4 separate regions of the Homo sapiens genome follow, and all the other regions are reported to be linked to region 1. Evidence: microRNA targets listed by miRTarBase, many of them from high-throughput screens and not tested one by one. Region 1 holds a microRNA gene; each other region holds the end of a gene's coding sequence.

Evidence for each region. The annotated mature microRNA hsa-let-7a-5p reads UGAGGUAGUAGGUUGUAUAGUU and lies in region 1 at 1,636-1,657, shown strand. An mRNA with a match to its seed (bases 2 to 7 or 8) in the 3' UTR can be bound and repressed. Matches are read on the target gene's strand: a 7mer-m8 pairs with bases 2 to 8, a 7mer-A1 pairs with bases 2 to 7 and ends in A, and an 8mer does both.
Region 2: miRTarBase lists PLOD1 as a target of hsa-let-7a-5p. The part of its 3' UTR that is shown has no 7-base or 8-base seed match.
Region 3: miRTarBase lists PM20D2 as a target of hsa-let-7a-5p. Seed matches in the 3' UTR shown: 7mer-A1 at 833-839.
Region 4: the mRNA of CEP135 is a reported target of hsa-let-7a-5p. The part of its 3' UTR that is shown has no 7-base or 8-base seed match.

The regions. Positions count from the first base shown.
Region 1 is chr9:94,174,327-94,177,469 of GRCh38, forward strand. MIRLET7A1 (microRNA let-7a-1) reads left to right here and starts at 1,631; the gene lies at 1,631-1,710. It overlaps MIRLET7A1HG (miRlet-7a-1/let-7f-1/let-7d cluster host gene), which reads left to right. Exons shown (of 5, transcript NR_170278.1): 2 at 1,539-1,639. It overlaps MIRLET7F1 (microRNA let-7f-1), which reads left to right and starts at 2,021; the gene lies at 2,021-2,107. LINC02603 (long intergenic non-protein coding RNA 2603) reads right to left here. Exons shown (of 3, transcript NR_160773.1): 3 at 2,243-3,143.
Region 2 is chr1:11,974,318-11,977,460 of GRCh38, reverse strand. It overlaps PLOD1 (procollagen-lysine,2-oxoglutarate 5-dioxygenase 1), which reads right to left. Exons shown (of 19, transcript NM_000302.4): 19 at 1,924-2,808. The coding sequence ends at 2,653. Among named protein-coding and RNA genes, the nearest start is that of MFN2, 4.6 kb to the left of the region's middle.
Region 3 is chr6:89,161,583-89,164,700 of GRCh38, forward strand. PM20D2 (peptidase M20 domain containing 2) reads left to right here. Exons shown (of 7, transcript NM_001010853.3): 6 at 201-308; 7 at 527-3,118. The coding sequence ends at 681. Among named protein-coding and RNA genes, the nearest start is that of PM20D2, 17 kb to the left of the region's middle.
Region 4 is chr4:56,024,409-56,027,551 of GRCh38, reverse strand. CEP135 (centrosomal protein 135) reads right to left here. Exons shown (of 26, transcript NM_025009.5): 25 at 2,938-3,051. The coding sequence ends at 2,949. Among named protein-coding and RNA genes, the nearest start is that of CRACD, 23 kb to the left of the region's middle.

The DNA.
Region 1 (3,143 bases):
TCAGAGCTGTCCAAACCCTGACACTTAAGGGGTTTTTATGGAGGTTTCATACTTAGGCATGATTGATTACATTATTGGCCTTTGATGATTGGCTTACTCTCTGTCCTCTCTGCTTTACCTGGAGGTTGAGGGGGTGAGGCTGAAAGTTCCACCCCTCTAATCACACCTTGGTCTTTCTGGTGACTATCCCCCTCCTGAAACTACAGGAGCCACCAATCGACTCAGTAGCATTAAACAGACATTCATCACTTAGGAAATTCTGAGGGTTTTAGGAGCTGTATGCCAGCCAGGATCTTCAAATGGAGACAAAGACGAAATACGTGTTTCTGATTCCACTTAACAACTGTTTGACTTGTCTACAAGTTTTGTTCTCCAAAGCAGCTGCACCATTTCACATTCCCACCAGCAATCTAAGGGTTCCAATTTTCTCCGCATCCTTGTCAACACTTTTATTAATCTTATTAGCCATCCTAATGAATAATGTATCTTTTCATGTGCCTGTTGGCCATTTGTGCTTATGAGTCATATCTTTGGTGAAATATCTATTAAAATATTTTACCATTAAATTAGGTTGTTTTAAGTTACTTTAATGTGTGTTTTGCACACCAGTTTACAAAGAATGCAGATCCATTTTTTTTGCATGTGGCTATACAGCCGTCAGCATTATTTGTTGAAAAAACGATTCCCAGTTGAATTGTCTTGTCATGGTTGAAAATCAGTTGACCCATGTATGGGTTTATTTCTAGACTTTAAATTCTATTATATTGAGCCGTATGTTTTTTATTACGTTTTGTAATTTTAAAAATTAGTGCTTTTGGTTACTAAATCACTACAAAATAAATTTAGTCCCTATCTTAAAAGATAATCTTCGTAGTAGCTACCTCCTAAATATGAAGTCTGTAAATTAAAGGGTAATAATACAGTTTAGATTACTTGGGTTTATTAAAGATTTTGGACTCTGCCTTCAATCCACATATTACCTTTCTATCTAAAGGAAAGGATCCTGACCCTGAATCAGATCCAGGTGATTATCTTTGATTTAGTCCTAATAAGACCACTTAGTGTTTGCTCGCATGGGATAAATGAGTAGGTTCCTTTAAAAATTAGTTTCTATTTGTGTGTGTTTTTTATATTATCTCGTTGTATGTTAGTGCATTTGGATTATGCATGATGTACAGGACTTTTGGGTTTTGAAGTCATTGGATTTTTAATTAGAGGCTGTCATGTTTTTCTGTAATGATTTTTTGTTGTTTCTTGAAGGATAAGTTATTTCATGCATTTTCATTTGTAGGAACTGTAAGAAAACCAGCAGTTAATAATAGTAAAAGGTGGTGGTAAGAGGGTGATTTCTGAATCTTGTAAATACATGGTTTTAGGAGCGGATTCAGATAACCAAGCATTTAAAATACTATTAATGAAATACAGGAAATGAAACCACAGCATAGATTATGCATGTAGCCAAAATGTTCAGTTAAACTTCATTTTCAACGTAAGTGAATGAAAATGGTCTAATACTATTTTTCTTATCACTCACACAGGAAACCAGGATTACCGAGGAGGAAAAAAAGCCTTCCTGTGGTGCTCAACTGTGATTCCTTTTCACCATTCACCCTGGATGTTCTCTTCACTGTGGGATGAGGTAGTAGGTTGTATAGTTTTAGGGTCACACCCACCACTGGGAGATAACTATACAATCTACTGTCTTTCCTAACGTGATAGAAAAGTCTGCATCCAGGCGGTCTGATAGAAAGTCAGTTAACTAATTGTACAATATTTAAGATTAACTTGTCTTAAAGAGATGTAGTGCAGCATTTGTTTATGGCCTGGAAATAAATTAATTTAGAGATAAAGTCTGTAGCAAGTACACTGGATGGGGGTGGGGAAACCTTTTGCTTCTTGTCTTATTTCTCTGTGTCAGAATAAATGTATTTTTTTATTTTGATTTATGCTGATAATTTTATGTTGAAATTTTCTTTCGAAAGAGATTGTACTTTCCATTCCAGAAGAAAACATTGCTCTATCAGAGTGAGGTAGTAGATTGTATAGTTGTGGGGTAGTGATTTTACCCTGTTCAGGAGATAACTATACAATCTATTGCCTTCCCTGAGGAGTAGACTTGCTGCATTATTTTCTTTTTATTTAGATGATATTAAAACTCAGAAGAATTAATTTTGACATTTTGTATTTACAGTTTATCAGTTAATTTTCTCTGTTCAAGTAGTACAGTAGGCACAGATTAACATTTAAATTTTTCACATATGGTATATTTCAGAAATTTGAAGTTAAGCAAAAATTTTAATGAGTAGAGAAAGTAAGTAGCCTTCAGGAAATCTTCATAGAGGACCAGGCCCTTTTGGAATTGTGAATAGGTTTATTGCCTTACATCCTGGTACACATGTCCAAGGTCAGGTCCTGGGTGGTAAAGGTAAATACAAATTGGAAGGGCACTGTGTGAGCCAAAATGAGTCAGATTAGTCATGATTCATTTCCAGTTTGGGTTTTGGGTGGTCTTGGAGAATGTTGTAAGCACTGCTTCATTGATAGGTTGATTGAGCCAGACTTTACTCAGCAGCCTGGAAAAGGAGAGATGGGCTCTGGGTTCTACCTTTGCTCACTGGTAAGTTGCTAAGATTTCAGCTTTGCCCTCAAACCCTGAAGTAGTCCTTCATTCACACAGTGGGATCACTCGAAAATGTCAGATGGGGAAGTCCATAGGTTGTTACTTTAAAGAAAATAGAAAAAATGCTGGAAAAGGTTTCTTCAATTTTAATACCCATGAAGGCCCATGTTTTAGCTTTCCTCCGATGGGCAAACCATACACTAACTTGGGCCTTGTAATCAACAAGCAAGGCTAAAAGCTCTCTAAGTGCTTGCTGTTTAAACTATTTTGTGTTGGAAGAAGAGTTGGAAAAGAGGCAGTGTGGAGGTGAGGGAGAAGTTCCCTCCCTCCAATCATTTCCAATAAATGGAAATTTAAGGAGAAATTTGTGTTTATCCTTAATATCTAAGATAATCACTGTGCAGTGCCATTGGTACTTTTCATGAGAGTAGAAACATCAAACTTCCTTGGATGGGCCCAACCCAGGTGACTTAACTCTGGACCAAATGTATGCTTTTTGTTTTATCCACTGTGGACAGCTGCA
Region 2 (3,143 bases), not on the chromosome of region 1:
ATGCTGGTTGAGAATTCCTGGCCTCAAGTGATCCTACCACCTCAGCCTCCCAAAGCGCTGGGATTACAGGCATGAGCCACTGCACCCGGTCCATATTACTTTTTGTTGTTGTTGTTGTTGACAGGTTATTGCTCTGTCACCCACGCTGGAGTGTAGTGGTGCAATCTTGGCTCACTGCAACCTCCACCTCCCAGGTTCAAGTGATTCTCCCAGCTCAGCCTCCCAAGTAGCTGGGATTACAGGCACCTGCCACCACACCTGGCTAATTTTTGTATTTTTTTGTAGAGATGGGGGTTTTGCCATGTTGGCCAGGCTGGTCTCAAACTCTTGACCACAAGTGATCCACCCGCCTCAGCCTCCCAAAGTACTGGGATTACAGATGTGAGCCACAGCATCCGGCCCCCCATGTTACCTATTTTGTTTGACTTTTTCATGGTGAAGATGAGTTTGTAATCAGAAAAAAGTTAACAGTTAAAAACAACCCTATGCCGGGCACAGTGGCTCACACCTGTAATGCCAGCACTTTGGGAGGCCGAGGCAGGTGGATCATCTGAGGTCAGGAGTTGGAGACCACCGTGGCCAACATGGTGAAACCTCATATCTACTAAAAATACAAAAACTAGCTGGGCGTGGTGGCGGGTGCCTGTAATCCCAGCTACTCGGGAAGCTGAGGCACGAGAATTGCTTGAACCCGGGAGGCAGAGGTTGCAGTGAGCCGAGATCATGCCATTGCACTCCAGCCTGGGCGACAGAGTGAGACTCCATCTCAAAAACAAAAACAAAAATAACCCTAACATACACAAACACACACACAGGCTTGTGTCGGCACAAACCAGCTCAAGAACGTTCAAAAAACAGATTAGACATGGTGGCTTTCAGAGAGAGGAACTGAGCAGCTGGGGGGAAAGGATGACAGAAAGATTAAGATTTGTGCTGTTTGAATTTACAATGAGTCAATTTTGAAAATGAAAAGACTAAAAAATCTTTTTTTTTTTTTAATTGAGATGGAGTCTTGCTCTGTCACCCAGACTGGAGTGCAGTGGCCCAATCTTGGCTCATTGCAACCTCCACCACCTGGGTTCAAGCGATTCTCCTGCCTCAGCCTCCCGAGTAGCTGGGATTACAGGCGCATGCCAACACAACCGGCTGATTTTTTCATATTATTAGTAGAGACAGGGTTTCGCCACGTTGCCCAGGCTGGTCTCAAACTCCTGACCTCAGGTAATCCGCCTGCCTCAGCCTAAGTGCTGGGATTACAGGTGTGAGCCACTGTGCCTGGCCTCAAAAATCTTTTTTAAAAGACTTTCAGGCCTGGGATGGTGGCTCACGCCTGTAATCCAGTACTTTGGGAGGCCGAGGCGGATGGATCACCTGAGGTCAGGAGTTCGAGACCAGCCTGGCCAACACGGTGAAATGAAACCCCGTTTCTACAAAAAATACAAAAATGTGTCAGGCATGGATACCTATAATCCCAGCTACTCAGGGGTCGAGAGGCTAGCATGACCTTTCTTAAAGGCTCTAAAAAGAGGGCTCTTGGCCGGGCACGGTGGCTCATGCCTGTAATCCCAGCACTTTGGGAGGCCGAGGTGGGTGGATCATCTGAGGTCAGGAGTTCAAGACCAGCCAGACCAACCTGGTGAAACCCTTTCTTTAATAAAAAAACAAAAATTAGCCAGGCGTGGTGATGGGTGCCTGTAGCCCCAGCTGCTCGGAAGGCTGAGGCAGGAGAATTACTTGAACCCAGGAGGCGGGGGTTGCAGAAAGCGGGGATAGCGTCATTGCACTCCAGCCTGGAAGACAGAGTGAGACTCTGTCTCAAAAAAAGAAAAAAAAAAAAAAAGAGGGCTCTTAAAACCTCTCTCCCTGCAGACACTCACACCAAGACACACACACACCCACTCGCCCTGAGCATCTTCCCTTCAGTGGTTTAAATGACCTTTAATAGAAACTCTCCAGTTTCTGACGGTCTGTCCCTCTCTTCAGAGGCATCCAGGACAGGGTGACCCAGTGTGGTGTGTGGACCTGTCACTCCCCTCCCCACAGGCAAGTAGAAGATCGAGCTGTGCACAGATGCCTCTTCTGTCTCCCAAGAGGTTCTCTGGAGTCGCTGTCTCCAGGGGACTACGGTTTGCTCTCATGACCAGCCATGGAGGCAGAAGTCCCAGACTCAGGGCAGCCCTTGGAGTCTGATCCAGGTGTCTTTACCCCAAAACTTGAAGCAGAAGTCCCTGGTGCAACACCTGTGCCTGGGAGAAGCTCTGGCCATGGCTTCTCACCCAGACAGTCTTTCTGGGCAACTTGGGGAAGCCCCTGTTCTGCTCAAGTCTCACCCCATGGAAGAGGTGGGGGAAGGGGGCCTTGGTTTTTCAGGAAGACAGGTTGGAGAGCACGAGTCACTACAAAGCAGTAAAAGTGAATGGTGTCTCCAGGGGCTGGGTCCAGAACACCACGGAGAGCCCCAGCCATAAAGGTGTGTTCCGCCTCTGGCCTGCAGGAATCTCTTTGAATCTCTTTGATTGGTGGCTCCAAGAGCAATGGGAAGTCAACAGCCAGGAGGCTGGACTGGGTTCCCTGGGACCCCGAGGTCCCAGAGGCTGCTGGGCAGTGGTTGTCGGCAAAGAAGAAAGGTCCAAGAGGGTCAGGCCTGGCCAATTAGGGATCGACGAAGGAGACTGCGATGTAGCGGGTGCCCCTGGTGGTGGGGAGCCCCTCATGGTAATGCGTGAGTCGTCCAGGGTGCATGAGGGTCCAGCCCTTCCTTGGGGCTCGGATGGAACAGTTGTAGCGCAGGAACCGACAGCCCCCGCCCTGGGAGACAGAAAGCATCAGTGGCCTTTCCCCACCGCCCCCCTGCCCGTCTGTTCTCCCGTCATGATCTCCTGTCATGGCCAAGTGGCCCTCAGCACTGCCTGCCTGGGGATGCCTTCTGGAGTGACAGCCACAAGCGCTGCTAAGGAAGACACTAAATGAAGAGTAGTGGCCAGGAGTGGTGGCTCACGCCTGTAATCCCAGCACTTTGGCAGGCCAAGGCGGGTGGACCACCTGAGGTCAGGAGTTCAAGACCAGCATGGCCAACATGGTGAGACCCCATCTCTACTAAAAATACAAAAACCAGCTGGGTGTAGCAGCGCACGCCTGTAATC
Region 3 (3,118 bases), not on the chromosome of region 1:
TTCATGAGAGATGTGACTGATACAGGGGAGTGGGTGGCAGACTCAGTGGAAGGTGAGCCCATGAAAGCATGAGCATACGGACAACTCTCCAAGAAGCTCACTTCTCTGCGTCTCTTCTAACAGGGACTGTGACTTCATAACTCCAGAATACTTAACCACATATACTTAAATAGACTTTTCTTAACTTTGTGTGTTCCAAGGATCTACGGATTTTGGAAATGTTAGTTTTGTGGTTCCTGGAATTCATCCATATTTTCACATTGGATCTAATGCCTTGAATCATACTGAACAGTACACTGAAGCTGCTGGTAAGTGTTGTTGGATGTGACTGTTTTGGCACACACACTCTTCTTCTGGTAGTAGCTGCCTTTCTGTTTAACCTACTATTTCACTACATAACATCACCTCAGTAAATACTGCACTGTGGTGGGCAGTTGGAGAGCCAGTTGAGATACGGGTAGCTAACCTGTGAAATTAAATACAGCTTAAATAAGTAAGGAGGTATTTTATTTTCTCTACCTTTTAGGGTCACAGGAAGCTCAGTTCTACACTCTGCGGACGGCCAAAGCTCTGGCAATGACGGCACTGGATGTTATTTTTAAACCAGAGTTACTGGAAGGAATCAGAGAGGACTTTAAACTGAAACTTCAAGAAGAACAGTTTGTAAATGCAGTAGAATAAAAGACTTAGGGGCCACTTATAAATCAAGAAGACGTGATGATTTTTTTCTTTTAATCTCTTTTAATGAAGGCATGCTTGTTTTTTAATCTTAAAGGAGTAAAATTCTTTTTACCTGATAAGTGAGGACAGGGTGTGGAGAAAACATATTAATTACCTCATATCTAAAGTGAAAATTTTTGCAAATCCGTACTTGATAGGATTATGATATTACAGGAGCTGGTATGTGATGCCATTCTTTCTTTTTTTTTACCCCGCAACCACTCACCTTCACAGTAGTGATACCATTTCTTAACCTGGAGGATACATGGCATCATTTTTATAAAATATGTTAGTAAACCTTTTTGTAAGCCTTAAATGTTATGTGTATTTTTAAAAGCTTAAGAGATTTCAAACCTTATATTCAGAATTGACACCCATGAGAGTGTTTTGTGGTATAGGGTGGTAAACTTGTTCTCTAATCGTATATTAATTCCTCTACCAGATTGTATATTTGAAGCCAGTGTCTTTCCTTTTTTTGTTTTAAGATAGAGCCTCGCTCTGTTGCCCAGGCTGAAGTGTAGTGGCACAATCTCGGCTCACTGCAACCTCTGCCTCCCAGGTTCAAGTGATTCTCCTGCCTCAGCCTACCAAGTAGCTGGGATTACAGGTGTGTGGCACCATGCCCAGCTAATTTTTGTATTTTTAGTAGAGACGGCATTTCACCATGTTGGCCAGGCTGGTCTCGAACTCCTGACCTCAGGTGATGCACCTGCCTCGGCCTCCTAAAGTGCTGGGATTACAGGCATGAGCCACCGCACCCGGCCTGCCAGTGTCTTTTTAATACACATGTGTGTTGGTATTTTTAAATTGTTACAGTATCTAGCATATTGCTTACTCTGAATATTCAGTACTTTTTGAATAAGCAAATATTGCTTCCTTGCTTGGAATCATCAGAGTTTAAAGTAGCTTCGTGGATGGACCATGATCCTAAGATGAGTTTTAATTTTGTGTTTACAGTCATCTCTTGTACAACGTGGAGAAGAAAAGATATACTTACTACTTTGCTTCAGGTACACATAAGAAAACCTCTTTTTTAAAAAAATTTTTATTTTTTTACATAATAGAGACAGGGGCTCGCTGTAGCTTCCAGGCTGGCCTCAAACTCCTGGGCTCAAGCAATCCTCCTGTCTTGGCCTCCCAAAGTGTTGGGATTTCAGGTATGAGACACCACACCTGCCCATTTTTGTTTGGTTTTTTAATGGGCAGGTTCTTGCTCTCCCAGGCTGGAGTGCAGTGGTGTAATCACAGCTCACTGCAGTCTCGAACTCCTGGACTCAAGCAGTCCTCCCACCTCAGCCTCCTAAAGCACTGGGATTACAGGCTTGAGGCACTGCACCTGGCCCTGACCATTTTTTAAAAAGGTTAGGCTTAGTGCAAAGTTTAAAATTATATGATTCTTAAAATACTGAATTAGTTTCTAAACTAAACTAGAGGTATAGGTGGACCTGCTTGAGGTATCTTTGTTTTTATGGAACATTTTTATTACATGCCTTTATAATTTTTCATTGTTCACACCCTGTACTGAAACCTTTTTCTCAAATACCAACTCTTGGCTATGTTAAATTTGTAGACTTTAAAAGATGTTATCTAAATTAATGGTTTAAATATACAAATTGAAAATATTTTCTTTTTAGTGGCAATTTTAAAAGCAGGCCTTAATATGGGACCTGCTTTTAAAGTAAAATATGTGGTACTATGAATTACTAAATTGCTATATACCATGTAATAGTGAGTATAGCTAATATTTAGTATGCCTTTTAAAAATTTTGGACTGCTTTTCGGTTTTAACAAATTCTCCACATGTGAACTACTCAAGAAATTTTCCCTTTTTAATTGCCTCTATAGCACTCATAAGAGCTAGGGCATTAGGATAAACTAGAATATTTTATGTTTATGAATACTTGTATAAACTTAAAAGTGTTTTGATTTCCCACAATTTCCCAAAGGAATGTTTATTTATTAAGAGTTGTGTTGATAATTTAACTGTTACAATTTCAGCAGTTGAATTCAGTGAACACTGGTTGAGGAGTGCCTATTTCTAAGCACTGGGTGTAAGAAGAAAAGACACTTGCAAAGGAAGAGCTAAGATTAACATAATTTCTTTGGTTTTTCTATTGCTTGTTATTATTATGTAAAAACTGGGTGGCAGTTCACAAGGAAGATTGTTGTAACAGAAGAGTGACAACCAATAGTTTTTTGATCATTAAATCAAATTTTGTAAACAGTGGCAGGAGCGTGGACTTAAAACAAGGCTTGCTTATTTGGTTTTGTCAAAGTTTTACGAAAATATATGATATATATTTATACTAAAACTATATAATCCTTAGATTTAGGAAAGCAATCAGTTAATGTCTTTAGCACACTAAAGCAGTATTAAACACAGGTACAAGTTGGAAAT
Region 4 (3,143 bases), not on the chromosome of region 1:
CTATTTTCATAAAACCAAGGAATTATTTGCCTTTCACTCTTATTTTCTTACAGGTCTACAGTTGAGTTTTCCAGAGCTACATGATGTCAAGAGACAGGCAGTAAATATTTTAGATTTGTGGGACATGGGGTCTGTCAAAACTACTCAACTCTGCCACTGTAGTAAAGCAGTCTTAGACAATCTGTTAACAAATGGGTGTGGCTGTGCTCCAATAAAGCTTAATTTACACTAATAGGCAGTGGTATGGATTTGGCTTGCAGATCCTAGTTTACCAACCAACCCCTGATCTAAACTGCAGCTGTGAATCAAACATGAGAAAATGTCTGTGTCACATTCTTACAATCCTTTGTAACAAGAAGGTGAACCACCATCTGATCACATGAAAATAACACAGCAATTCAAGAAGGACACAGTGACTACAGTGAACACTGAGAAGTGGTCCTCAAAGTGAAAGAGAAAAATAAATGCCCTAATCAAACACAAAAGCAGAAGCAGAGCAATCAGGAATCATTTAAACCAAGGCCCTACAAACTTGAGGGCATCAGTACGTCAAAGAATAGCACATAACTAATGTTCACAATGAGGATTCTGAGTCAGAGGAAATGTTTAATTATCTTCTATATATTTCTATCAAAAGAGGCAAAGAAATGTATCAATTTAAACAAGACTGGCATAACTATTTCTGTCAATGAGTATGCATTTTCCACAGTCACTACCTGTCAAAGCCTGGGTCTGACTCATGTTTCTTTCCCACTCATTCCCATCTCCAGTGAATCAGCACATCCCTTTGATCCTTCCTCAGTCAAATGCATCCTGGCACTTTACAACTACTTTGGAAAACAGTTTACCATATCTCCTAGAGCTTGAACATACACATATCCAGTGATCCATCAATTTCACTTCTAAGTATAACCATAGCACTATTTGTAATAGCCCAAACTGGAAACTGCCAAGTGCTTATGAACAGAAGGAGGAGTAATTGGATTGTAGTAAGTTTCCATAATGGCATTCCATACACAGCAACAAGAGTGAACAATCTACAAGTACACACAACAATATGGATGGATCTCACAAATGTACTGTTGAGAAAAAGAAGCCAGGAACATGATTTCATTTATAAAATGTCTAAAAGTAAGCAAAAAGAAATCTACACTTTTAACAGTCAGGACAGTTACTTTTAGACCAGGGCTTATGACTGACGCCAAAGAGAAGTTAGTTTTGTTTTGTTTTTGTTTTGTTTTTTTGAGATGGGGTTTTGCTTTGTTGTCCAGACTGGATTTGAACTGGGCTCAAGTAGTCCTGCAACCTCAGTCTCCTGTGCCAGGCTTTATATTTTATTTTTTTGGATGGAGTCTCACTCTGTCACCCAAGCTGGAGTGCAGTGGCGCGATCTGGGCTCACTGCCACTTCTGCCTCCTGGGTTCAAGCAATTCTCCTGCCTCCGCATCCCAAGTAGCTAAGACTACAGGTGCGTGCCACCATGCCCAGCTAATTTTTCTGTTTTTAGTAGAGACGGGGTTTCACCATGTTGGCCAGGCTGGTCTTGAACTCCTGACCTCAAGTGATCCACCCGCCTCGGCCTCCCAAAGTGCTGGGATTACAGAGGTGTGAGCCACCGTGCCTGGCCTATTTTTTTTTTTTTTTGATTTTCATGCAGGTTACCTGGATGTGTTCAATTTGTTCATTGAAAAAATTCATTGAACTATGTATCTATGATATGGTACCTTTCTGTATATATTTCATGGTTTACTTTAAAAATTATGTCCTAGCTTTCAATGTTATTATACTAATCCTGAACTATTATACTGCTCATTTCATACCACTTACTGGTCTCTCTACCTCTAGTTCCTATCCTTTCCAATATGGTTCAAACACAGTTGTGAAATTAATCTACCAGAAACAGTTATTTCATCTTGACCCTTCCCTTGTACCCATCCTATACACAGGAGGACTGACGTTCACGTTCCTTTTGACTTACAGAATAAAGTCCACAATCTCTAATTTAGCTTCACATTCAATATAATACTCTATATATCCCACTCTACCTTCCAAACCTCTCTCCCTCATTATTCCCCCACAGCCTGCCCTTCCTGCCAGGTTACTACTGTACCATGTGTACTACTGTTTCTATGCTTTGTCTACATTTTTACTACCTATTATTTGTAGCCTGAATTTAGCCCTTCATCAAATAATATCCTGTGATAGCTCATATTGTCATTTAACGTTATGCTGTAGATGTCTTCTCTTTTTAAATTCAGGTATAATTTATATACGATAAAATGCATGGACCAGCCTGTAGTCCCAGCTACTCAAGAGGCTGAGGTGGGAGGACTGCTTGAGCCCAGGAGTTTGAGGCCAGCCCAGGCAAGATAGTGAGAACTCTTTGTTTTTTTGGAGATAGCTGCTTGCTTTGTCATGCATACTGGACTGTAATAGTGCAATCACAGTTCACTGCAGCCTCAACCTTCCGGGCTCAAGCCATCCCCCTGCCTCAGTATCCTCCCCCACCTCCCCAGCAGCTGGTACCTGGGACTACAGGTGTGTGCCACCATGCCTGGCTAATTTTTGTATTTTTTGTAGAGGTGGAGGTCTCACTGTGTTGCCCAGGCTTGTCTCAAACTCCTAGCCTTAGGTGATCCTCCAGCCTCAGCCTCCCCAAAGTGCTGGAATAACAGGTGTGGGCCACTGTGTCTGGCCGAGACCCCATCTCTTAAAAAAAAAAAAAAGCATACACTGTAAATGGTCAGTTTTATGAATTTTTACAATTGTATATACCCACATAACTACTATCACCAAGATATAGAACTTTTCCATTACTCCAGGAAGTTCTCCTGAACGCCTTACCAGGCAATCTCCCCTTTCCTGATGCAGAAAACTACTTTCTGAATTTTTACAACCACAGATTAGTTTTGCCTGTCCTTGGTGTTACATACATACCTTTCTGATAATTACACATTTCTATGTTCAGGAGAATGTGAAGGAGACCTCAGAGTGGAACTAAGGGGTGGTGTAGCAAGACCATGTCGACGCATCTCTTGGATTGCTCGTTCTCTGTTAGTAAAGATCAAACAAGAGAGATATATTCAAGCACCAGGGAAAATCAAAAAGTGGCAAACAAATATAAGAGTTATTAGCTAATTTGT